Homo sapiens: one gene and its partners. The protein of the gene in region 3 interacts with the protein of the main gene of each other region in a pairwise test. Each region holds a gene or a part of one and is shown on either strand. Other genes may lie near its edges. The genes, in order: DZIP1L, CUTC, CEP76, RBM41, ZNF653, TOB2 and CCDC92.

Evidence for each region.
Region 1: the proteins of CEP76 (region 3) and DZIP1L interact in binary tests that used the Homo sapiens proteins (3 or more experiments, as listed by UniProt).
Region 2: the proteins of CEP76 (region 3) and CUTC interact in binary tests that used the Homo sapiens proteins (3 or more experiments, as listed by UniProt).
Region 4: the proteins of CEP76 (region 3) and RBM41 interact in binary tests that used the Homo sapiens proteins (3 or more experiments, as listed by UniProt).
Region 5: the proteins of CEP76 (region 3) and ZNF653 interact in binary tests that used the Homo sapiens proteins (3 or more experiments, as listed by UniProt).
Region 6: the proteins of CEP76 (region 3) and TOB2 interact in binary tests that used the Homo sapiens proteins (3 or more experiments, as listed by UniProt).
Region 7: the proteins of CEP76 (region 3) and CCDC92 interact in binary tests that used the Homo sapiens proteins (3 or more experiments, as listed by UniProt).

The regions. Positions count from the first base shown.
Region 1 is NC_000003.12:138,067,109-138,070,608, forward strand, and holds part of DZIP1L (cilium assembly protein DZIP1L), read right to left. Parts: intron 3,489-3,500; coding exon of another isoform or gene 3,457-3,488; exon of another isoform or gene 2,057-3,456; coding exon of another isoform or gene 2,052-2,056; exon of another isoform or gene 1,266-2,051; intron 1,260-1,265; coding exon 1,043-1,259; intron 593-1,042; coding exon 423-592; intron 1-422. UniProt on the Homo sapiens protein: Involved in primary cilium formation. Probably acts as a transition zone protein required for localization of PKD1/PC1 and PKD2/PC2 to the ciliary membrane.
Region 2 is NC_000010.11:99,749,234-99,752,733, reverse strand, and holds part of CUTC (copper homeostasis protein cutC homolog), read right to left. Parts: intron 2,366-3,500; coding exon 2,338-2,365; intron 1-2,337. UniProt on the Homo sapiens protein: May play a role in copper homeostasis. Can bind one Cu(1+) per subunit.
Region 3 is NC_000018.10:12,678,724-12,682,223, forward strand, and holds part of CEP76 (centrosomal protein of 76 kDa), read right to left. Parts: intron 2,106-3,500; coding exon 1,939-2,105; intron 1-1,938. UniProt on the Homo sapiens protein: Centrosomal protein involved in regulation of centriole duplication. Required to limit centriole duplication to once per cell cycle by preventing centriole reduplication.
Region 4 is NC_000023.11:107,070,323-107,073,822, forward strand, and holds part of RBM41 (RNA-binding protein 41), read right to left. Parts: intron 104-3,500; coding exon of another isoform or gene 1-103. UniProt on the Homo sapiens protein: May bind RNA.
Region 5 is NC_000019.10:11,499,340-11,502,839, forward strand, and holds part of ZNF653 (zinc finger protein 653), read right to left. Parts: intron 1-3,500. UniProt on the Homo sapiens protein: Transcriptional repressor. May repress NR5A1, PPARG, NR1H3, NR4A2, ESR1 and NR3C1 transcriptional activity.
Region 6 is NC_000022.11:41,432,994-41,436,801, forward strand, and holds the end of TOB2 (protein Tob2), read right to left. Parts: coding exon 3,318-3,808; 3' UTR 501-3,317; downstream 1-500. UniProt on the Homo sapiens protein: Anti-proliferative protein inhibits cell cycle progression from the G0/G1 to S phases.
Region 7 is NC_000012.12:123,970,032-123,973,958, forward strand, and holds the start of CCDC92 (coiled-coil domain-containing protein 92), read right to left. Parts: upstream 2,801-3,927; 5' UTR 2,498-2,800; exon of another isoform or gene 1,709-2,497; intron 1,389-1,708; exon of another isoform or gene 1-1,388.

The DNA of each region.
Region 1 (3,500 bases), on a different chromosome or scaffold from region 3:
CTCTAATCCAGCCCTAACAGGAAGCCTATGCCTCAGGCATTCCTGGGCCCTGTCACCACTACTAGAGCGAGGCTTTGATCTCCCGTAGCTGGCCACAGTGTTTACTCTCTACTGGAAAGAACATGGAGGAGAAAAGGGGTGAATGGCTCCCTTCAACCTCCCACAGTTAACAATTTAATGACAAAACAAGGGGTAAAACTAAACCTTGCTCAAACTCTAGCTTTCTCCTGATATCTCTGCTATCCCACAAAAAAATATCTGAGGCGAAGGAGGACCATCCTTTCCAAGCCAAATAGAGAAAGAGATGTCAAATAAGAAAGCCTAAAGGAAGCTAAAGGGTGTTTCTGGAGCCTTGAGAAATCTGGGCTGGAGAAGGGCTACACCGGTGGTCCCAGCCCACTCACCCAAAGGTGCCAGCTCACCTGAGCCCTGGCCAGGGGGCTGGGCATTCTCCTCCGAGGTCTCTGTGTCAGACCAGTCCCAGTCATCCTTGGGCCGGGGCACCATCCTGGAAGGAACTTTTGGGGGCTGTAGAGACACACGCTGCACACGGTCTCCCTCTGAGTCCTCTTCAGAACTGAACGGGGGCGTGCTGCCACGAGGAGGAGAAGAAATGAGGGATGCATGGGCCAGAAAGAAAACTTCAAAAGCCAAACTTCACCACGCTTCAAGCTGGTTTGGTTTGCTCAGGGCCAGCCCTGCTCCCTCCCTCAGGCCCAGAAGACAGCCAGGAGACCCCTGGAGTGCAGCAGCCACACCAGTATCTCCCTTAGTAGAGCCCTGCCCATCTGAGGATCCAGCCCCTCTGGAGGGGGAACGGGTTTGGGGGAGGACATGGGTAAGGGGAGGGTGGGTTTGTCTTGGCTGGGAGCACAGGTTCTCAAGTCCAGAGCTCAGACTGGACCCCACCTGAGGCACCTTCTATTCACATGTGTCTGCCCCCCTCCTATCTGCAGAAGCCTGGAGGGAGCCCAGAACAGGACTGCCTGAATCCAGGAGCCACCACTGCAGGTGGGGTGAGAGGGCAGAGTCTGGGGCTCACCTCATCCCGGGCCCCGAGGAAGGAGGGGTGCTGGAGGGTCCATGCAGTCCGGGGCGTGGAGCGGGGGCGGACACCTGGGTCAGGCTGGAGCCATGGCTGCCATGGCTCTGACGAGTTGGTGGGGGTGGCTCTGCCGGTGTGGATGGCAAGGCCACCTGCAGGGTCCTGGTCTTTGGCTGGGCCTCTCTGGTGACCAGTGTGCTCTGCTGGCTTTTGACTGGAAACACAGAAAGGAATGATTTTTGGAGTACACCCATGCTGGATCTCAAGCCTAAGAGGAGGGAGAAAGTGGCTCCAACACCCTGGAAATGAACAATTACTCCCTCTCCGTGCTGTAATAACCACAGCAGATTTCATGACTGTTGCCAAATCAGGTGTTCTGCTGGCCAGATTCGAGGCTAGGACCACAGTTCCACAGTTTCATCAGAGACCAGGAGAGCAGCTGGGTGCTCCAGGGTCGTGTTGTCATTACTGAAGACCAGCAGGAGTCCGCGGGCCTGAAGAGGGGCTCAGTAGTCCTAGATGGACTTCACCAAGGCTGCTACCCTCTCCCCAACCCACGCTACAGCCGCTGCACTGCAGGCAGTCCTGCAGGAAGACCCCACTGCCACCAGAGGTCGCCGCAGGACTGCATGAACCATCAAGATCCACTCAAACCTCCTCCCAAATGCAGTCTGGGGCAAGGCAGTACCAAGGCAGGCAATTGGACACAGCCCCTCTGTTTTCCAAATTGCATCAAGACCTATAGCCACAAGAGCGGTCCCGGATCAGCAAGTTTTTATGGGAAGAGAAGAGAGAGAGTGCATCACAGGGAGTCAGACATGTGTGGATTGGGTCACAATGTAAAATGAGTTTCTTACAGTAATTCAAGATCAGAAAATGTTTGAAATACAGTTGACCCCGAAACAACGTGGGGTTGAACAGCCATGGGTCCACTTATACGTGGATTTTCTTCCGACTCTGCCACCCGTGAGACAGCAAGAGCAACCCCTCCTCTTCCTCCTCCTCTTCAGCCTACTCAACACAAAGATAACAAGGATGAAGTCCTTTATGATGATCCACTTCCCCTTAATGAATAGTAAACATATTTGCTCTTCCTTGTGATTTTCTTAATAACATGTTCTTTTCTCTAGCTTACTTTATTGTAATAATACAGCTTATAATTCATATAACATACAAAATGTGTGTTAATAGTCCATATTGTCGGTAAGACTTCTGGTCAACAGTAGGCTATGAGTAGTTAAGTTTTGGGGCAGTCAAAAGTTACACGCAAATTTTCAACTGCATGGGGGGTTTGCGCCCCTGACCCCTGCATTGTTCAAGGGCCAGCTATGCACTGCTCTCAGTGAATGTGTCTACTCAGAAGTGGAGCTTCCAGGAAAGAGTGAACTGAAGAGAAGGGGAAGACAAAGACAAGCCTGCTGGGGGAAAATAACAATAGCTTCCCATGACTGTGTACCAGATACTAAGAAAAGCACTTTACATACAACCACTTGGCCCCCGAGCATCTTCAGAGGCTATCATTTTCCCTACAGAGGCTTGCCCTCAGCTCCACGGAAGAAAGTGGTGAATACAAACCCAGGTTGTCTGTCTGCCCTAATCTTGGGCCCTCACCGCTACTTCCCACAGCCTTGCCCAGGCCACAGAAGAGGCAGGGTCCAAGCAGAAATGGGAGGTGAGCATTAAGACAGCACTTGTGGGACCCAGGAAAAGAATAAAGGTGCAGAGCTGGAAGGAAAGGTCTACAAAATGCCACAAAAACACAGCGCTCATCTCACAACTCAGTAACATCTCCAGAGAAGGCAGAACCCCAGGGCCAGGGAAAGGGAAGGCTGCGAAGGGGGCTCTCCCTCCTGGCTTTTTTACTACAGGAACAAAGGTGTGTGGGAGTGGGTGGGGCGTAGCACCTAGAAGGAGCAAGATACCTTTGCTTTCTCTTGGAAGCCAGCATTCCGAGGGTTTTTCCATTCATCCTCCCCAAGTCCCTGTCCCCTCCCTCCTCTGAGCTCCCACCACCCCCATGCTTGGCTCCATCACATCACCTGGTCCTGGCTGATTTCCCAGGTGAGGTGGAAGGCCCTGGCACAGAGTCAACCTCAGCAAGTACTGTACTAAATGAATGAGTGGGCAAATGAATGAATGAACATTTGACTGAATGAGCAAAAGGATATACGTTTAAATTGGAGCATAAAAGGCAGATTGGCAACCAGGACAAATACCCTTCTGTCTGAGATTTCTATGCAAGATAAAAACCGTCCTTTCCTTAGAGATTTTAAGGCCAGAAGTTTAAACTAAATATTATAGTTTCCCAGGTCATCAATACATTTTTTTACCATATTTTCATGCCAAAATGACAATGCTTTTAAGCACAAAATACCTGCTTGATACTTGTCCAAGTAATAATTTCCATGAGCTCACAGGATTGCTATGTTAGTCTTATTTTCTTCTAATTCACATG
Region 2 (3,500 bases), on a different chromosome or scaffold from region 3:
GTATGTAACATCTTTTGACCTGAGTCAGCTTCTTGAGAACGTAGTTTCTTGTGTAGCTTTGCATCCCAAGTAATGCCTTGCACACAGCTGATAACAATTGCATATTAAACAAAGGTACTCTTAATGTCAACAATTGTCTAAGTATTACTTGTCAAAACTATATATATTTAGTGCTAAATGGAAAAGCATCACACTCAGAGTCTCTTTAACATTCCTTGATTAACCAAAAAGGACCACAATTTGACAGATAATATATACTTTCTCTCTGCTTATGTTTCAAGGGCTTGTTATAGGTCAAAGCCTTCCTAAATATCTGACAATACCCCTTATATGGCCTTTTTTTTTTTTTCTTTTGACACAGGGTCTCACTCTGTTGCCCAGGCTGCAGTGCAGTGGTGCGATCATAGCTCACTGCAGCCTTGACCTCGGGCTCAAGAAATCCTCCCACCTCAGCCTCTAGAGTAGCTGGGACGTCAGGAGCACGCCACCATGCCCAACTAATTTTTTTACGTTTTGGTAAAGATGGTGTCTTACTATATTGCCCAGGTTCACGGCCTCTTTTTAAAAGTTACTCTTTATCTAGGTGTCACTATTTTGAACGCTGGTCAGTCTTGACATCACTAGTAGTGAGATGACCAGAGACTGAATACCTTCTGATGTGATGTCATATGATGTAAGTATGCAGAATCACCCATGAAGTATTCTGACCAAAAATATTTAAGCAGAGTCTATTCAAACCTCATGATTTAACTATTAGTTTATAGGATATACAGAGGCACGAGGAACAAGCTAAACAATATCATGAGGAAATAATCTGATAAATCCAGAAAGTAGGACATTTTACAGGGTAAGTGATCCAAACTTTTATTTTATTTTGAGACGGAGTCTTGCTGTGTCACCCAGGCTGGAGTGCAGTGGTGCAATCTCAGCACACTGCAACCTCCGCCTCCTTGGTTCAAGTGATGCTCATGCCTCAGCCTCCCAAGTAGCTGGGATTACAGGCACATGCCACCATGGCCGGCTAATTTTTGTATTTTTAGTAGAGACAGGATTTCACCATGTTGGCCAGGCTGGTCTCGAACTCTTGACCTCAGGTGATCTGGCTGCCTCAGACTCCCAAAGTGCTGGGATTACAGGCGTGAGCCACTGGGCCCAGCCCAAACTTAATAATGTAACTTTTTTTTAAAGCAAGAAAAATAAAAGGAAAAACATCTATATTAAAGATATTTTAAAAGATAATAGAACTGGGCATGGCAGCGTGCAACTGTAGTCCCAGCTACTTGGGTGGCTGAGGCAGGAGGATCGCTTGAGGCTAAGAGTTCAAGTCCAGCCTGGCCAATATAGCAAGACCTCATCTCTAAAAACAAACAAACAAACAAAAGATAACCAAAAATGTAATGCTTGTTCCTTGACTGGATCCTAGTTTGAACATATCAGCTATAAAAACCATTGTGGGGACAATTGGAGAAAGTTGAGTATTAAATGTTTATTGTGATAGATGTGATAATGGAATTGTCATTATGGTAACATCCCACCCTTTTTAGAGATAAATAAAGATAAAATGCCATGATGCTTTCAATTTAACTTTAATAAAATACCTCAGGATAGAAAAAAGATGAGACAAATTTGGCAAAATGTTAAATCTAGGGAATGAGCATATGAGTATTCATTATGCTATTTTCTACTTTTTTATATGTTTGAGAAACTTAATTAAAAAAATTAAGATTGTCTTTACATTTGTCTCACTCTTCTATGTTGTATTATCTAATTCTTTAAAAACTGCTCCAACTGTTCATTTCTAGTTAGCCATTATGAACTTAACTGATCTTATGGTTATCATCAGGATCATATGATTAAATTCTGGTTACAAGAAATAATTTGGCAATCAGAGATTTTCAGGAACTGAGACAGTATTATATTTTACCCAAGGATGTTGCCTAAACCTTTGCTTAAACCCTGTTTATTAGGACATTTGTCCTAAACAAAATATGATTAGCATCAAATTTGATGTGCCTCACCAGAGATGAACATCTGAATTCATAAAGTTCTATATAATGGGAGAGCAAATATGGAGAAACCTCAATCTCTATCTGCTTCCTTATTTGCTCCTCTTTGAGCTAATGCCTATTACAATATTTTCCTTCTTATCTAAACTTTTAAATTCTAGCACAGATCTCCCAGTTTTAAACATTTTAATCAAACTATATATTCTTCTCTTTAAAGATCATGTACTAATATGTAATGTACTAATACTCTCTCTCACATTTTCCTGCCTCCTTTGCTCTTCCTCCACTATAGTTCAGTGTTATGCTAGTGAATTGATAGATAAATAAATACCTGGCATTACCACAATCCTGCCTTTTGCCTGAAAAAAGAAAAAAAAAAACAAGTGAATTTTAATATCTTTCTCTTGAATGGGATAATAAGGCAGTGAGAATAGAAACATAAGTCAGAATATATTAAATTTTAAAAATTACTATTAATGTTTAATTTTTACTAGATCTTCTCTATTTCTTTGGGATCTTGGACAAGTAAGATGTCCAGCATAGTAAATTTGTCTCTAGAAAATTATCTTTCCAAAAAGTCATTTTCCCCCCCAATAAGTGCCATTTTCTCCTTCCCCTTCACCTATTAAGATGGTATATAAGCCCCCAATTCTAAGTCATATTTCTTTGTGAACTTCTGTATGTACTTACATATATATGTACTTATGTGATAAAATCTCTTTTTACTCCTGCTAATCTGTCTTTAGTCAGTTTAATTTGCAGGCCCCCAATAACAAACCCTGAGGATAGAAGAAAAGTTTTTCCTCCCTGACATGGTGAGTAAGAGAAAGTTCCTGCTCTCATGGAGCTTACACATTCAAGAAAGACGAGACAATGCACAGGGATATTTATACAATAAAATTCCAGGTAGCAATAAGTATAACAAAGAAAAAATAAAGCAAGTGAATAAATAAAGCAAAAAATAAAGTTAACAAGAGAGTGAAAGAGGGGAGTGGCTATTTCAAATAATTTAAAAATTGTTAGGGAAATAAATGGAACAAGGATGCTTCATATTCTCAAATGGCCTGAACAAAGCATCCATAAAACAAAACATTGACTATCTAAAAAGCTGAAATCACTTCAGAATGGAAAAAAGTCATATTTGCCTGTTTCTTCCAAATCAAGGCTTTCCAAAACATAGAGAAATAATATTTTTAAAGAAATGAATTCTACCATTTCTTTTCGCCTTCCATACAAGATTATTTAGAAGTATATGCTTATCTAAGGCTATCAAAGTGATTTAATAATATAGAGCAGTCACTAAATGTCAGATTTAATAATATAGAACAATTACTAAGTGCTATAACCTGAAGAAATCCCTCACAACTATTCTAGGAGGTAGGTGCTATTATTATCCTAACTTTGCAGAAGAGCAAAGCTGAGGTTTAGGATGGCTAGGTAATGTATCCATGGTCACTATTAGTAAGGGTCAAAGCCAGGGTTTAAACACAGACC
Region 3 (3,500 bases):
GGCAGGGGGATCACCTGAGGTCAAGAGTTCGAGACTAACCTGACCAACATGGTGAAACCCCGTCTCTGCTAAAAATACAAAAATTAGCTGGGCATGGGAGCACGTGCCTGTAGTCCCAGCTACTCGGGAGGCTAAGCCAGGAGAATTGCTTGAACCCGGGAGGCGGAGGCTGCAGTGAGCCGTCCAGCCTGAGCAACAAGGGCGAAACTCCATCTCCAAGAAAAAAAAATAAAAATAAAAAAAGTTTGCCTCAGATAACATAATTAAAATAATTTGGTTATGCATTTTTAGGCACAACTAACCAAAACATTATTAGGCATGATTATCAACCAGGGAGAAAGAGGACTCGGGAATGAAAAGAGGGCCCAGGGCTGGGCCTCTAGAACACACACATTTAAAGACAAGATGAAGGAAAAACTAAGAACAGCCAGAGAGGAATAATAAATATTGAAAGACAATGATAAAAAAGAAGCTAAGGAAAGAGAATGTTCCATGAAGAAAGAAGTGAGACAGCCAGGTGGAAAGGGGTCCCCAGAGAAACTCCAACCAGCCTGTGCACTGGGAGGAGTGCACACTGGGGAGAAGCCACAGAAGTTCGAGCAATTTGCAGTGGGGAGGAGCTTGGCCCCTCCTCTTCCTGAGTGGAAGCTGGAATTCAATCTGCGAGGCAGGAAGCACACTAGCAGGCAGGAAGCACACTAGCAGGCACGAAGCACACTAGCAGGCACTCTGGCTTTGTGGAGCGTCCGTTTCCCAGTGTTTTTCCTTTTTGTTCAATAAATTCCATTTTTCTCCCCCTTCAAATTGCCTGCGAGCCTAATTTTTCGTGGCCATGTGACAAGGACTCAGCTCTTAGCTGAACTAAGGAAGAAGTCCTACAACAGAAGTACTCAGCTGTTTCAAAATCTAATGACAGGCTAAAGTACTTTAAAAAATGTGTCCAGTGGATTTGCCAACGTGGAGATGGTAACCACATCAAATTTTAAAAAGAAATCATCATTTACAACTTGAACTTATTTTCAGACTTAGGTATGATCATCAGAAAAAAACATATGCCAGCCAGGTGTGGTGGCTCATGCCTATAATCTCAGCACTTTGGAAGGCCGTGGCAGGTAGACTGCTTGAGCCCAGGAGTTCAAGACCAGCCTAGACAACACAGCAAAAGCTCATCCCTACAAAAAAATTAGCTAGGCATGGCTGTGCACACCTGCAGTCCCAGCTACGCAAGAGGCTGAGGTAGGAGGACCACCAGAACCCAGGAGGGGGAGGCTGCAGTGGGCTGTGACTGTGCCACTGCACTCCAGCCTGAGCAACAGAATGAGACACTGCAAAAAAAAAAAAAGAGAAAACTGAAAAAAAAATATGCTAATCATACAAAACTAGTAAACATAATTTACTGTTTACCAACATCATGTTGGTAAAGAATATTTGAGGTAAAAGTTTTCTTAGAGTTCATTTACTTGGCTGCCATAATTGAAGTACTTTTTTACATAATCACTGAAAAGGCTCTAACTAAAATCATCAACACGTACCTTCAAGTACCATCAATATGGACAAAAAACCCTTATAATTTAAAATACTTATAACTTAAGCCGGACACAGTGGCTCACGCCTGTAATCCCAGCACTTTGGGAGGCTGAGGTAGGTGGATCACCTAAGGTCAGGAGTTCGAGACCAGCCTGGCTAACATGGTGAAAACTTGTCTCTACTAAAAATACAAAAATCAGCCAGGTGCGGTGGCACATGCCTGTAATCCCAGCTACTTGGGAGGCTGAGACAGGAGAATCGGCTTGAACCTGGGAGGTGGAGGTTGCAGTGAGCTGAGATTGTGCCAGTGCACTCCAGCCTGGGCGACAGAGCGAGACTCCATCTCAAAAAAAAAAAAAAAAAAAAACTTATAACTTCATTTTAATATCCTTATAAACTTAGTAAACTAACCTGTGTCCTGTTAAACTCTCCCAAAAAGTGATGGCCCCATCAGTTCCACAAGTCATAACCCATGCATGAGGTACTCCTTTTGCCTTGGTCCCAACACAAACAAAGGCTTCTAATCCATATCCAAGAAGAAGGCTGCACAGAAGGTTAGCGTGATCTTCACAGTCACCCTGGAAGATAAATTAAAATGAAGTATTCATTCTTCCATATTATTTCCTCATTACATACTTAAATACTAAATTATAATAAAAATTTATTGGCTGGGCACAGTGGCTCACGCCTGTAATCCCAACACTTTGGGAGGCCAAGGCGGGTGGATCACATGACGTCAGGAGTTCAAGACCAGCCTGGCCAACATAAGGAAACTCTGTCTCTACTAAAAATACAAAAATTAGCCGGGTGTGGTAGCACACACCATTAGTCCCAGCTACTCAGGAGGCGAGGCAAGAGAATCACGTGAACTTGGGAGGCGGAGGTTGCAGTGAGCTACAATCGCGCCACTGCATTCCAGCCTCAGCAACAGAGTAAGACTCTGTTTCCAAAAAAAAAAAAAAATGTTTATAAAGAACTCACACAACACAGAAAGAAAAGTAGAACATTTTTTTTTTTTTTTTTTTTTGAGACAGGGTCTTCCTCTGTCACCCAGGCTGGTGACATGATTCATAGCAGCCTTGACCTCCTGGGCTTAAGTGATTTCCCCATCTCAGCCTCCCAAGTAGCTGGGACTAAAGGTGTGCACCATGACACCTAGCTAATTTTAAAATTTTTTTTGTATAAACAGGGGTCTTACTGTGTTACCCAGGCTGCTCTTGAACTCCTGGGCTCAAGTGATCCTCCTGCCTCAGCCTCCCAAAGTGTTGGGATTACAGGCATGAGCTCCTGTGCCCAGCCTGGAATATTTTAATAGATTAATAGCTGAAGTACATGAACAAACAAGCAAACAAGTCATACAGCAAGAAATGCAAATAAATGGAAAACACTCAACCAATGACTGATAGTATCTATATGTGATAATTTCAAGAAAATACATACATAAGAAAAATGACTGGCAAGAACAACAACAAAATGCCAACAATGGTTATTACTGGGGAGGTTATATATAATTTTCCACTCTTTTTCCAGATTTTCTTTGGTTATATTACTTTCAATTTTAAAAAGTTATAAAGACCTATAAAAAAATAGAAAATATTAGCTGGGTATGGTGGTGTGTGCCTGTAATCCCAGCTACTCAGGAGGCTGAGGCAGGAGAATCGCTTGAACCTGGGAGGCAGAGATTGCAGTGAGCTGAGATCGTGCCACTGCACTCCAGCCTGGACAACAGAGTGAGACTCTGTCTCTAAAAAAAAAAAGAAAAAAAGAAAAGAAAATATCTGATACTGTGTTCTGTGAAAAAAATTACCAAGATATTAAACACTATGGTTACAATTTCGTATTTAAGTGTAGGAAGACTACACGCGAAAGCAAAAATAACTATTTGAGTTGAGTGTCCGAATGAAGAAATTTCTTTTTTTTTTCCTCTCTTTTGAGATAGGGTCTAGTTCTGACACCCAGGCTGGAGTGCAGTG
Region 4 (3,500 bases), on a different chromosome or scaffold from region 3:
GTTGAGGTCCTCCCAGTCCTTTTCTGCCATTTGGCTCCTAGAACGCTGGTAGTACCCTCGTAAGAAAGATTTTGGAAGTCTTCTCTGGGAAAACTGGTAAGTCCTAGGAGGAAAGATATAAAAATACTGACTTGGGATGAGGAATTTCTCTAACAAATGACCCAGCCAGACCACTTTAAAGTGAAGCTCAAAGTCAACAAGTGCCATTTGTGTGCTCAGAGATTCCAATCTGCTTTTTAGTTCCTACTTATAAAGTTGGGCATGGATTATCAGGCATCTTAGGAACTCCTCTAATGTGAAAGAGAGAACACAACAAACATAAAGAAAAGAAAGGAAATAGGAAAAAACTTCAACAAACCATAACTAATATCCTCAGGAAAATAAGAGAAATTATTCTACCTATTAGGCGGCACGGGAGGGTAGGTGCGGTGGCTCACTCCTGTAATCCCAGTGCTTTGGGAGGCTGAGATGAGAGGATCGCTTGAGTCCAGGAGTTTGAGATCAGTCTGGGCAACACAGTGAGACCCTGTCTCTGCAAAAGAGACAGGGTGGCATGTGCTACTTGTGAGCAAACAGCATGCACCACCACAACTGGCCAATTTTACAAGTCCCAGCTATTTGGGAGGCTGAGGCAGGAGGATTACTGGAGCTCAGGAGTTTGAGGCTGTAGTGAACTATGATCACACTACACCACCACACTCCAGCCTGGGCAACAGAGTGAGACCCTGTCTCAAAAAAAAAAAAAAATTCAACAGAACAAAAATGAGCTCTTATATGTGATTGAACGTAAGATGTTATCAGCTTAAAACAGATTGTTTTACCATGCCCTATACCTATAAAAGATAAACAGAGAAAAATGGGAAAGATATCAAAGTATATCACTACAAAAAAAAAAAAAAACCCAATGAACCACAAAGGAAGACGGCAGAGAGGGAGAGACAAAAGAGCTACAACAGAGACAGAAAACAATTAACAAATGGCAATAGTAAGTCCTTTGCTAGCAATAATTACATTAAATATTAATAAACTCCCCAAGAGACAGAGTACCTGAATGGATAAACAAAATCCAACTATATGCTAGCTATTCTATGAGGCCAGGATTACCCTGAGACCAACCTAGACAAAAACATTATAAGAAAAATACAGACCAATATCCTTAATAAACAGATGTAAAAATCCTCAACAAAATATTACCAAACCAAATTCAACAGCACATTAAAAAGCTCATACACCTTGACTAAGGGAGATTTATCCCTGGGATGCAAGGATGATTCAACATACAAAAATTGATCAATGTAATACAACACATTAACAGAACAAAATATAAAAATTACATGATTATCTCAACAGTTGCAGACAAAGCATTTGACAAAATTCAACACTGTTTCATGATGAAGACACTCAACTACTAATAGAAGGAATTTACCTCAACATAATAAAGGCCATATATGTAAAGTCCACAGCTATAATATTCAGTATTAAAAAACTGAAAGCTTTTCCTCTAAGATCAGGAACAAGGCATGGATACCTACTCTCACTTCTATTCAACATAGTACTGGAAGTTCTAGCCATAGCAAATAGGCAAGAAACAGAAATAAAATGCATCCAAATCAGAAAGAAAGAAGTAAAATTATCTCTGTTCACAGTTGAAATGATCATCCATGTAGAAAACGCTAAAGACTCAACAACAACAAAAAATTAGACATCAGTAGAATGGGGAAAAGCTGAAAGCTTTTCCTCTAAGAACTGGCAAAAGACAACAATGCTCACTCTCACCACTCTTATTCAACACAGTAGTGAAAGTCTTAGCCAGAGCAATTAGACAAAGGAAAGACATAAAAGGCATCCAAAGCAAAAAGGAGGAAGTCAAATTGTCCCTGTTTGCAGACAACATGATCTTATATAGAGAAAAACCTAAAAAAAAACCTGAAAGAGTCTACCAAAAAGCCCTTAGAACAGATACACAAATTCCATACAGTTGCAGGATACAAAATCAACACACAAAAATCAGTAGCGTTTCTACACACGAACAGCAAACTAGCTGAAAAAGAAATCAAGAAAGCAATCTCATTTACAATAGCTACAAAAAGCAAAATAAAATACCTAGAAATAAATTAACCAAGGAGGTAAAAGGCCTCTACAAGAAAAACTACAAAACACTGATGAAAGAAAAGTTTAGAGGATACAAACAGAAAGATATTCCATGCTCATGGACTGAAAGAACATTGTTAAAATGACCATACTATCCAAAGCAACCTACAGAATTAATGCAATCCCTATCAAAATACCAATGACACTCTTCATAGAAAAAGAAAAAAAATCTTAAAATTTTTATGAAACCACAAAAGACTCTGAAGCCACAGCAATCCTGAACAAAAATAACAAAGCTGGAGGAACTGCACTACCAGACTTCAAAATGTACTACAAAACTGTAGTAACCAAAACAGCATGGTACTGACATAAAAAGAGACACATGTAACTGTGGAACAGAATAGGGAACTCAGAAACTGACCCATGTATCTACAGCCAACTAATATTTTAATAAAGACACCAAGAACATCAGTTGGGAAAAGACAGTCTCGTCAATAAGTGGTGCTGAGAAAACTGGATACCTATATGCATGAAGAATGAAACCAGACCCCCATCTCTCATCCTATACAAAAATCAACTCAAAACAGATCAAAGACCTAAACGTAAGACCGGAAACTAAAAAACTACTAGGAAAAAACATAGGGGAAACATTTCAGGACACTGGTCTGGGAAAAGATTTCATGAATAAGACCTCAAAAGCACAGGCAACGAAAGCAAAAATAAACAAACGGGATTATATTAAACTAAAATCTTCTGCACATCAAAGGAAACAACAGAGTGAAAAGACGAACTACAGAATGGGAGAAAATATTTGCAAACTACTCACCCAACAGGGGATTAATATCCAGACTATACAAGGAATTCAACATCTTAACAGCATCAAAACAAACAACCTGATTTAAAAATGGGCAAATGATCTAAACAGCTATTTCTCTAAAGAAGACATACAAATTGCCAACAAATATATGAAAAAATACTCAACATCACTAATCATCAGGAAAATGCAAATCAAAACCACAATGAGGCATCATCTCATTCCAGTTAGGATGGCTACTACTGGAAAGACAAAAGTTAACAAATGCTGGTGAGGATGTGGAGAAAAGCAAATTATTACAGACTGTTGGTGGGACTGTAAACTTTTACAGCCACTATGGGAAACAGTACGGAGGTTCCTCAACAAACTACAAATAGAACTACCATACGATCCAGCAATCCCACTACTGAGAATTTATCCAAAGGAAAGGAAATCAGTATATTGAAAAGACAATGGCATTCTCATATTTATTGCAGCACTATTCACAACAGCCAAGATATGAAGTTAACCTAGGTGCCCAACGATGTGGTATATATACACAGTGGAATACTATTCAGCCATAAAAATATTGAAATCCTGTTATTCAGAGCAATGT
Region 5 (3,500 bases), on a different chromosome or scaffold from region 3:
TGGATGTCAAGCCTTGGTTAGGTGACTGTGAGTTAATCAAACGGGAACATATCTTGTAGGGCACAGTGGCTCAAGCCTGTAGTCCCAGCTACTTGAGAGGCTGAGAGTGGTCTTGGCCCACAGCCAGCAAGACAGTGGGTACTGTCTGGGTGTGGTGTCTCACACCTGTAATTCTAGCACTTTGGGAGGCTGAGGCAGGAGGACTGCTTGAAGCCAGGGGTTCAAGACCAGCCTGGGCAACATAGCAAGATCCCACCTCTATTTATACAATTAAAAAAAAAAAAAAAAAAGGCCAGGCTCCGTGGCTCATTCCTGTAATCTCAGCACGTTAGGAGGTTAAGACGGGTGCATCGCTTGAGGCCAGAAGTTGGAGACCAGCCTGGGAAACACAGTGAAACCCCATCTCCACAAAAAATACAGAAATTACCCAGGCGGGGTGGCATGCACCTGTAGTCCCAGCTACTCAGGAGGTTAAGGTGGGAGGATCACCTGAGCCTGGGGAGGTCAAGGCTGCAGTGAGCTATGATCACACCACTGCACTCCAACCTGGGCAACAGAGTAAAACCGTGTCTCAAAAACAAAGAAACAAACAAAAACAAACAAAAAACGATCTTCGTCATGGTACAGCCCTGTCACTTAATCATCAATAAGCAAATGGTACAATGATCGTTATGATTATCAGTATCATCGTGGAGCCTGGGCCCCCTGGCCTCCCTGCTGTGGCCCAGACCTGCTCTTGCCACAAACATCCTGACAGCCAGTCTAGTGTCTCTTATCAGCAAAACTGTCCACCCCGTCTGACTCCTGCCCAGCCCTGTAACAATTCTCAGTCCCACACCCGTCTGGTTCCCAGGACTGCACCTTGGGGATCTTCCATCTTTCCTGCCCCAGGCTCTGCCCCTGCCTCTGGCTCTGCTACTCCAGGTCCCATTCCATGTGACTCTATCCCTTCCCATGGCTCCACCCTCCCCTGCAAAGCACCACACTGGCTGTAGAGACCTTCACCCAACCCAAGACCCAAGTCTGGCTCTGTCACCCAGGTTGGAGTGGAGTAGCACTATCTCAGTTCACTGCAACCTCTGCCTCCTGGGTTCAAGCGATTCTTCTGCCTCAGCCTCCTGAGTAGCTGGGATTATAGATGCCTGCCATCAGCCCAGCTAATTTTTCTATTTTTAGTAGAGACAGGATTTCGCTATGTTGGCCAGACTGGTCTCGAACTCCTGACCTCAAGTGATCTGCCTGCCTCAGCCTCCCAAAGTGCTGGGATTACAAGTGTAAGCCACCATGCCCTGCCCCAAACCCAAGTCCTGATGTCCACAGCCACCTCCATCCACTCACCGCTGGAGGCTGGGAGTGTCACATTGCAGTGGGGACAGTCTTGGGTATCAGCCAGACCCAAGTTCAAGACTCAGCTCTGCTCTCAACTGCCTGTGTGACCTCAAGCAGGTCTTGTCCCCTCTGAGCCTCAGTCTCCGTCTGTGAAGTGGAAATAGTAGTAGTGCTTCTGACACAGGGTCACCATGGGGACCAAACAAGGTCATATGTAACCTGGTGAGCGCCACTTTCCAACCCCCACACAGGGCTTTCTCCCTCAAACTGCCTTCCCTCTCCTGTCCACTTCTCCAACTTCTGCCACTTCTCTGTGACTCCCAGCAGAGGCCACTGGCATCAAGGACCACAGCTCCGGGGCTACTCAGGCCCTGGCTTGGCTGTTTCCCGCCATTTCCTTTCAGTCTTCAGTCATTCCCACCAGCATCTAAATATGCCATGATTTCTCCCATCTTGGGTTAAAATCATTTTGATACCCACCTTCCCCACCAGCCCCTTCCCCATATCTTTTTTTTTTTTTTTCTTTTTGAGACAGGCTCTCGTGGTGTTGCCCCAGCTGGAGTGCAGTGGCGCCATCACAGCTCACTGAAGCTTCGACCTCCAGGGCTCAACCGATCCTCTTGCCTCAGCCTCCTGAGTAGCTGGGACCACAGGCATGCACCACCACACCCGGCTAACTTTTGTACTTTTTGTAGAGATCGAGTTTCGCCATGTTGCCCAAGCTGGTCTCAAACTCCTGGGCTCAAGAGATCCTTCTGCTTCAGCCTCCCAAAGTGCTGGGATTACAGGTGTGAGCCACTAGCACCCAGCCTCCTTCTTCATTTCCCCGTTTTGTCACAGTTGTCTACACTCGCTGTCTCCATGTCCTCTCCTCCATCTCACTGGAACTCCTCCAGTCAGAGCTTTGCTCCATCACGTCACACACTCTCCCATCACAGTCACCAGTGACGGCTTCACTCGGCCCAACAGCACTGGACATGGCAGACACTTCCTTTGGCCTCCTGGGTGCTGCCACTGCCCAGTGCTCCACTGGCACCGGGCTGCTGCTTCTCCCTCACCTCCCTTACCAAGGAGAGCAACCGCCACACTCAGGCCTGTGTTTTCTGTCTAAAAGTATCCCTTTAGTAACTTTTTTTTTTCTTTTGAGATAGAGCCTCGCTCTGTTGCCCAGGCTGGAGTGCGGTGGCACGATCTTGGCTCACTGCAAACTCTGCCTCCTGGGTTCAAGTGATTCTCCTGCCTCAGCCTCCTGCGTAGCTGGGACTATAGGCGTGTGCCACCACGCCCAGCTAATTTTTGTATTTTTAGTAGAGACGGGGTTTCAATATGCTGGCCAGGCTGGTCTCGAACTCCTTACTTCGTGATTTGCTCACCTTGGCCTCCCAAAGTGCTGGGATTATAGGCGTGAGCCATCGCGCCTGGCCTATTTTTATTTTACTTTTTGAGACAGTCTTGCTCTATTGCCCAGGCTGGAGTACAGTGGCGCGATCTCGGCTCACTGCAACCTCCACCTCCCGGGTTCCAGTGATTCTCCTGCCTCAGCCTCCCAAGCAGCTGCGACTACAGGCGTGCGCCACCATGCCCGGCTAATTTTTGCATTTTTAGTAGAGACAGGGTTTTGGCCTATTGGTCAGGCTGGTCTCAAATTCCTGACCTCAAGAGATCCACCTGCCTTGGCCTCCCAAAGTGCTGGGATTACAGGCGTGAGCTACCATGCCTGGTCTTCCTTTTTTTTATTTTAATTGTTGACAAGAGTCATGAACCTCCTTGGACTCATCATCAGCTTTAACAATTGTTAACTCTTGGCCAACCTTGTATCACAATGTGTACCCCATCCATTCTTCAAGCCACACACATCCTAGAGACAGTTTCTTCTAAAATACAAACCAGGCTGTGTGTGACTTGTAGTCCCAGCTACTCTGGAGGCTGAGGTGGGAGGATCTCTTGAGTCCAGGAGTTCAAGACCAGCCTGGGCAATATAGCAAGACTGCATCTCAAAAATAAATAAACAAATAAATAAGGAAATAAAAGGCCAGGCCCAGGCCCGGGTATGGTTTCATCTTTACATTTAAATCTGCAACCCCGCCGGGCGCAGTGGCTCACACCTGTAATCCCAGCACTTTGGGAGGCCGAGGCAGGCAGACCTCTTGAGGTCAGGAGTTCGAGACCAG
Region 6 (3,808 bases), on a different chromosome or scaffold from region 3:
ATTGTCCAGCCCAAGAAAAGGGTTGAGAATCCAAGCACCGGGCTTTTGGATGGAACCTGGCTTAGGCAAGCTGTTCTCATCCTTGCCCACATCTAAGGATCTAGTACTAAGGATCAAGTACTAGATCTAGAGTAGGCTGGAGGCTGTCCCCGCTCTCCTCCCCCCAGGAATAGACAATTCCTAAAGAGCCATGAAGTACCCCGTTCTCCAGGCTCTGCTGCCACCACCAACTGGCTAAGGGAACTGGAGCGGTTTCTAACTTTGTGGAACCTGTTTCCAGTGTAGAAAAGCATCTGCGGTAGCAAGCACAATGATGTATCCTGTGTTGATGGGATGGATAGGTGGTCAAGAAGGGGCACCAGGACAGTTATGTCCATCCGAGGCTGTCACTGTAAGGAGGACCAATCGTTTCTTGGAGTCTGTAAGGGCTGGGCCACTCCCATTCTCTCCATCCCAAAAGGGACCCCAGAAACCAAGCAAGCCAGGAGCAGGCAGAAGGCTATTATGTATCATGCTTTTAATACAAACTTAAAAAAATCTGGAACAATAGAAACTGTACAGATTTGATCAATCTTTTTGTTTTGTTTTTAAACTAAAATCTCTAAACACACCAATGTCCCATTCCAAAATATTGCACAACATTCTGAATACAAAACCCTTGATTGTATTCCTCCTTCACTAAAGAAAAAAGTTCATGACCCTGCTCCCCGGGCTCCTCTCCAGGCTTGCCTCAATGCCCCCTTCCCATCCCTAGGGAGAAAACTAGAGAATCTATAACTCACTGCATTGAGAAAAACACATCATTCTGGACTAACAGTTTCCATTCTTCAGAAGATAATCCACCTTTTGATTTGTTCCTGGGAAAGAGGGATAGATAGAGGATGGGGAAAGGGGAGAAAAGGTTTTATTTCTCCTCTTTTTTTTTTAAAGTTTGTTTTTCCTGAAAAAATATGTTTCTCTCATCTTTTTAAGAAAAAATCTTGAAAAGAAAAAAATTATGTTTTTTACGTTAGAAATATACATATATTATATACCTCTTACATTTTACAAATGTAGCAAATTATTCAATACAAACGGACACCAAAAAATGTAAAAAATAAAAAAAAGTTTTCCTACGAAACCAGGTAAATTAGTGCAGATTTCTGTTTTTGTATTCTTAAAAAAAATAAAATTGAAGCAAAAATGCCTAGATTTGAGACAAGACAGACTGAACTGGGCCCAAGAGCGCAGCACTGGAGTCATGCTCCTGAACACACATTTTTCTTCGTATTTCAAAAGACACAAAGGGGTTGGTCTCCCCTCTCTCCCTACATGTGAGAAACAAGCCGACCTGGTGTGGGTGGGTGCCTGTGTGTGTGGATGGGAGGAGGGCTAGAAGGGGATGTAAGGCAGCATCCAACCTTTCCCAGAGAGAAGCTATCTGCTGGGTCTGTCACCTGTGTGGGAGCCGAGGATGAGGGAAACAAAGGGTGGCCCAGACTGGGCTGGCCCCTGAGAAGTCTAGGGGAACAGATGGTGCTGGGCTGAGAAGCCAGGACATTGCCTGCCGGGGGAGGTAGAGCTGGTGCCTACTGCAGGGAGAGGAGGCTGGCAGTGCTGGCCTGGGCTGGACCCACTGCCATAACAGTTGCCTACTTGGGGTCCCTGGGTAGGATGGAGTGGGTGGGGTGCCAGGGGCTTTGGTGCTTTCTGGTGATTGGGACCCTGATGCCAAGTGCCCACTTTGCAAAGAAGAAAAAGTTAATGACCCTGCTCCCTTGGCTCCTGTCCATGCTTGCCTGGCCTCCTAGAGTTGGAGGAACAAGCCCTCTCCTGGCAGAGGCAGGAGAGCAAGTGCTCTCCTATGATCCAATACATCAGGCGGGAGTGCTGAGTCCGTCAGGACACCACTCCTCGCAGCATCAAGGTCCAGTGGGGTTGGGTCAGGGCAGTGAGAAGGGGTGGCAAGAGGTACCAAGAAGCTCTCAACCAGGCAGGGGCACAAATGCACTCAACACCTCCAAACTAAGAGACCCCAAAGTCTCAACTCCAGGCTCAGGGCTGCCCCCGCACAGACACTAACTCTAAAATCCCACCCTGCCTCTCTGCCCACCCCCAAGGGTGCTCAGGTGAGCAGCTCCCTCTGGGCTAAGGCCAAACAACAGGAGGGTTGAAGTCCAGGGACTTCTCATAGGCATCAGGGGCTTGGGTATTCCCTCTGCCCTTCAGAGCTAACTTATTATTATTTTTTTGGTCAAAAACAAAACTGCAGATCCTTCCACAGTCTGCAAACCAGTTCCTTCTGCAGTGTTTTCCTCTGGGAGTGTCTTGGGCTAAGCCACAGCGGTGTCACCCCACCACACACACTGCCCTGCAAAAGGACTGCCAATACCCCCAGCCCATTCCCCAGCCTCACATATAAATAAGGACTTGCGACCCAGAATCACATCCAGAAGGGAAGTTTCACATGGCTTGGAATCCTTTAAAAAAGGACAGCAAACCAAATACACACACACACACCCCTCCCTACCCACAACATCCAGCCTGGGGAAGAAGGGGCTGCATGAGGGAAAGAAAGCCCATACACATCAATGGCCAGGGCCATGATGATGGTCTGGGCCTAGAGGGAATGGTGGGGTGGGGCCATAGGACAGAGATGAAAGGAGTTTCACTAGACGAAGTGCTAATCTCCCTGTAGTCACAGACATCAGCTCCAGGGGGAGGGTGTCAAGTGGCCAGCCAGCAACTCCCTGTGGCCCAGCCTGAAAGGGAGTGGGGACTGGGGTCAGACCTATTCAGGTGGCAGGGCCCGAGAAGGCCTGCTGAGGTTGGATGGCTTTGAGTGCGAGGATAGCTGGGTGACAGAGGCAGTGACACGGGCCAGCCTCTCCCTGTTCCAGGGAGGGTCAGGCTCCAGCTGCAGCTCTTTCTTCCCTATGAGCTTGGACACATCAATCCTAAACTAGGAGTGTGAAGGAGGAAGGGAGGAGCAGGGAGCAGCAGTTCACATCTGGACCATTCTTAGCACAGGAAGCCACTCATTAAAGATGTTATATAGAAAACTACATGTAAGAAAAAAAAAAAAGAAAAAGAAATATAAAACCCAAACCAACCAAATAAATCACAGGCCGGTGGGCGAGCGGTAAGGGGTGAGTGAAACACACTTGGGTGCTTTGCAGGGCCCTCCCATTCCGTGCCTGGGCTGGATCTTTTTTCTAGAAGTAAGAGTGAGAAGATCGAAAATCTTTTTGTACATTTTTCTTTTCCTCTTTTTTTTGGCCTTTCCTTTCTCTTTTCTGTGGTCTTGGGTGCTCCTGGCCCCACGGGCAGGTAGATGGTCAGTTGGCCAGCACCACGGGCTGGAACTGCTGGCTGGGATACTGCATGGTGTTCAGGTTGTAGCTGAGGCCTTCCACAAAGGGTGTCTTCTCCAGGAAGAGGCTGTTGGCACCACCTCCAAATACCTGGGCCATGTCAAAGCTGCTGCTGTTGCAGGTGCCAGCCCCACTGCCTCCAAACGGGCCTGGGGTGCCGCTGCCCTGGCCATCGGCCGCATCAAAGAAGAGGCTGGGTGAGCCACCACCGTTGTACACGAACTCCTTGGCATTGGGTGAGAGCTGGGACTGAGGGGCCGGGTTGGCCGTGATGAAGTTCAGTGAATGCATAGACAGAGAGAGGCTCTTGTGCTTCAGCAGGCTGTTGGTGGGTGAGCGGGCCATGCGAGGCTGCTGTGGTGGCTGCTGGCCACCCGCCCCACTGCTGGCTACACCCCCACCACTTGCTGCCCCGCCCCCCTTCTTCATCTTAGTGGAGCCAAATTTGGTGGCAG
Region 7 (3,927 bases), on a different chromosome or scaffold from region 3:
ATGCAAAGCACGACTAAGAATCATCTTCGATAGCAGGTGGGTCTTTAATCTACTAAAAAATCTTCCTAGGGTTCATGTAGGTGTCTGCGGATGTTGCTACGTCCACAACTCTAGAAGCCAGCATAAGAAAACAAAAAACAAAAGCCACAGTGCTAAAAGGGAAGTACAGAAGTCCTCGAATATAGTTGCCATCGGAATACCCAGGAGTCCCTCTCAGAAAGACCCTCCTATACCTCTGTGATACCTCCTAATAGCCATTCACGCCAAGTGGGGAACCAGCTGATCCCAAAAGCCCCTAGGGAAGGAGCAGCCCCTTCTTTCCACCGCTAGTTCTCACCATAAACAACTTTTGCCTTCATATAGAAGTGAAATCTGTTTTTCTGTACTCAATAATTACTCAAAATAAATGAAATCCCTTGCTGCATGACAGACCTTCAAATATTTGAAGACAATTAGGACACAGCCACTTCCGTGCCCAAATCCTTCTGCAGGTTGAAACATCAAAGCTGAAGATGTGGAAACTGGTGTCATTAAGTTAGCACCTACCTAGCCGGGATGAAACTTCAATCTGACTCAAACATTTACTGCAACATTGGTGTGTGAAGATACAAAGTCACCTAGTCACTGCCCTTGAAGGACATGGAATTCAGTAAATTCAGTAGATATAATTAATCTTAGTTACCAAATGTGTGCCCACTATGTATTAGAAACTATTTATGGCTGACCTTGTTCCAGATAGAAGGAAAAAAGTTCCATGACTTTTCTTGCCAGAAATACGAGAAAATGCTTTTTTAACATAAGTATTTTTTAAAAGCATCAACATTTTATTAACGTTAGTATCGTTGCAAAGGCATCCTACCAATTAGGTAATTATGTTGAGATCAATTTATCCAAAGATAATTGGATAAGTTGAGATCAATTTATCCAATTTTGCAATTTATCCAACATGGCAGATGAAAGAGTTATAAACCCAAGATGAATGATTCGTTTTTTAAAGAGTTAATAAAAATATCTAATTTCAAAAAAACCCTATTTGTTAGACCGATGTATTTAAAATGTGTCACAGTAAAAATCTCACACAAATAATTGTCCTGTACTTTAGATCTTAAATGTACCTAAACTAAATTTACTGAGTAATTATAATACGCAGAGGAGTAACAAAACTATTTTAAGATTTTTCAGTGGTGTGTATGGATATGTACGCATACCCGTATATATAATCACGAGTTTTAAAGCCTTCTTCCAAGCATATTTCACATAAGATGAACAGTTAGCCAAAAGAATTACATACATTTCAAAACATCTTTGGAGGTAAAAGCCACTTTAAACGTTAGCATCTTTTTCCTTACAATGCAATAGCGAGAAAATGCATGGGAATTCTTGATGAGCAAAAAAAAAAAAAAAGAAAAGTCGTTTTATCAATACCAATGCTCTTTAAATAAATTTCAAACGTAAAAGTTTTAAAATGGCAATCCTAGTTTTAATACTCTTACAGGTTTCTGGAACTGCGTAATATGTTAAAGTATTACAGCGTGGTAGCTTGCATTTTGTTATAAAACCGACTACTGCAACCTAAGCTACAGAGCGCGGTTATATTTTCTCTCTGGCAGCCTAATTTTCCTTAGTGGACTAGATCGTACTGCTAAATACCAAAACTTGAAATGAAACAATACAGGTCAGCATGAAAACCTAAGTTAGAGAAACTCACTCGCCGTAGCAGACGGCAGCCCAGTAGCCAAGCCTGGAGCTCTGCTGCGTTTGTGCATTCTGCTCCGTTTCACGAATCACAGGCAAATCGTTACTCAGAGTAAACTAAAGCCGCATCAAAGCTTCAGGAAGGGGCTGGCAAGGTAGTGTACTTACGGAAAGGCTACCAGGACGGGAGGCGATACAACTTGTCAGGGAGGGTCTCTAAGGTTCCCCGGGTGGTAACAAGCATTTAAAAAGGCGATGTGGATTCAGACGGCCTCCTCCCCACAGCATCCCAGACAAAGCCGGGCTAGGCCCCGGGGCGCTCCTGGTGCACCTGCAATGCGGATCCCTCGCCCTGCGATCCCACCCCGGGGCAGACAGGAGCGCCCCGGGACCGGCCTCTCCTCCCCCTTGGCACTGGGGTGGGCGCGCGCCGCGGCCGGTCCGCACCCTGGACTGGAGCCCGGGCCGGGGAGCCCCCTCCCCAGAAAGGGCCGGCAGACCCCGCGGGGGCGGGCGCGGGGGTCGCCGAGCCTCAGGGACCCTCTTTCCCCGACTCCGCCGTCTCCCGAGTTGCCTTCGCCCGGGGCCACCCCTGCCCCTGGGGGAGCTAACGTGGCTCCCAAGCCCCGGAGGTGGGGCAGGAGGACCCCGTCCCCCGTCTCCCGGCGGGGAGGGTTTTTAAAGTCTTCGCCACGAACTCCCGTCCCTGCCCGGCCCCTCCGCCCCTGCCCGGCCCCTCCGCCCCCGCCGGCGCTGCCAGGTGAGCGGGGCCGGACTCGACACACCCCGGGCCCCGCCTCACCTGCGGGCGCCGCCGTCGCGTTCCTTCAGGCGGCTGCCCTCTTAGGCTCGGTCCTCCCGGCGGGCGGCGGTGGGGGCCCGTGGCCCATGGGCTGGGCGGGGCGCGGCGGGCGGGGCTGCCTGGGCTCGGGCGCTGCCCGGGCCGGGCCGCCGAGGGAGGTCAGTGGGCACCGCCCGCCCGGCGCATCTCGCCCGCTCCCACCCCAGCGCTAGCCGCGGTGCACCCTGGGAGCGGGGCCGGCGGCGAGGCCTGGCCGCGCTGACCCGGCGGGCTAGGCGCCGGCGCGGCGGCGGGCCTGTGTCTGCCGGGCTGGGCGGGGGCGGCGGGCCGATATTCACTTGGCGAGGCGGGGCTACGCCCCCTTCCGCCCGGCTGTGGCGGGGCAGGGGCGAAGGCCGAGGGGAAGGGAGGGTCGGGCCCGCGGGACGCAGGCGCACAGCTCAGGTGCGGCCGCACTGCGGTTGCCCTGGGTAACGCGGCCCGAGGGAGGGGGGGGCGCGGGGAGGAGCGAGGGAGGCGAGCGGGAGCGCGCGCGCCGGGCGCTGGGGTGGGGGATGGCCGGGCCCGACCGGGCCGGGGCTGGGGGGCGGGGGCGGAGGCGGGCGGTGGGGGCGCGGGCCGGGTGGCCGCGCATGCGTGCGGCCCCCGCTCCCCCGGGGCTTCCCCGGCCTCGTGCGTGCGCACGCGCGCTGTCCCCCGGAGGCGTCTGGGTGTGCGGAGCGCGCGCGCGCGCGGCTCGGAGGCGCACCTGTGAGGTGTCCCTGAGGAGAGGGAGGTGGGTGCGCGGCGCCCGCGGCCTGGGGCGCTGACTCCCCTCACTTGGAGTGAGTTCTCGGCGGCCGGGCTGCAGTCTTTCTTTCTTTCCCGGAGGGAGGCGGGGGCCGGGGGCCAGGGAGCGGGCTGGGGGTGGGAAGGAGGTGGAGTGGCTTAAAGAAAAGAAAAACAACCCATCCCGGAGGATGGGCCTCGGGATGGCGGGGAAGGTCAGAGCGGCTCCGCGCAGCCTGGCGGGTCCCGGGCTGAGAAGCCGCCCCTCGGGCCTCGGGCGGTCGGCCGCGGGCCCGCAGTGCGGGGGAGCGGGGCCGGGGGGCGCAGATGGCGGCCGGTGCGAGCGAGGGCTGGGCAGCGGGCAGGGCGAGGCCGGGCGAGGCCCCTCGGGAGCCGGACTCCCGAGCCAGGCTCCATTGTTGTTGGAGCCGAGGGAAGGGGGAGCGCTGCCGCCCTCGTCGCCCGTGGAGCCGCGTCTTGGAGCCCTTCCAGGCGGGTCCCGGGAGAGGCGGTCATGGCCGCGCCAGGGGACCGGGGAGCCGGGCGGCTGCGGAGGAGCCGGCTGCATGGGGTGCTGTGTGTTTTTCAGGGCGCCCTGCGTCCGGCAGAGGAGGCGAGCATCCCGCTCAGGTGATGAGGAACCCCTCGCGCACCCAGCGCAG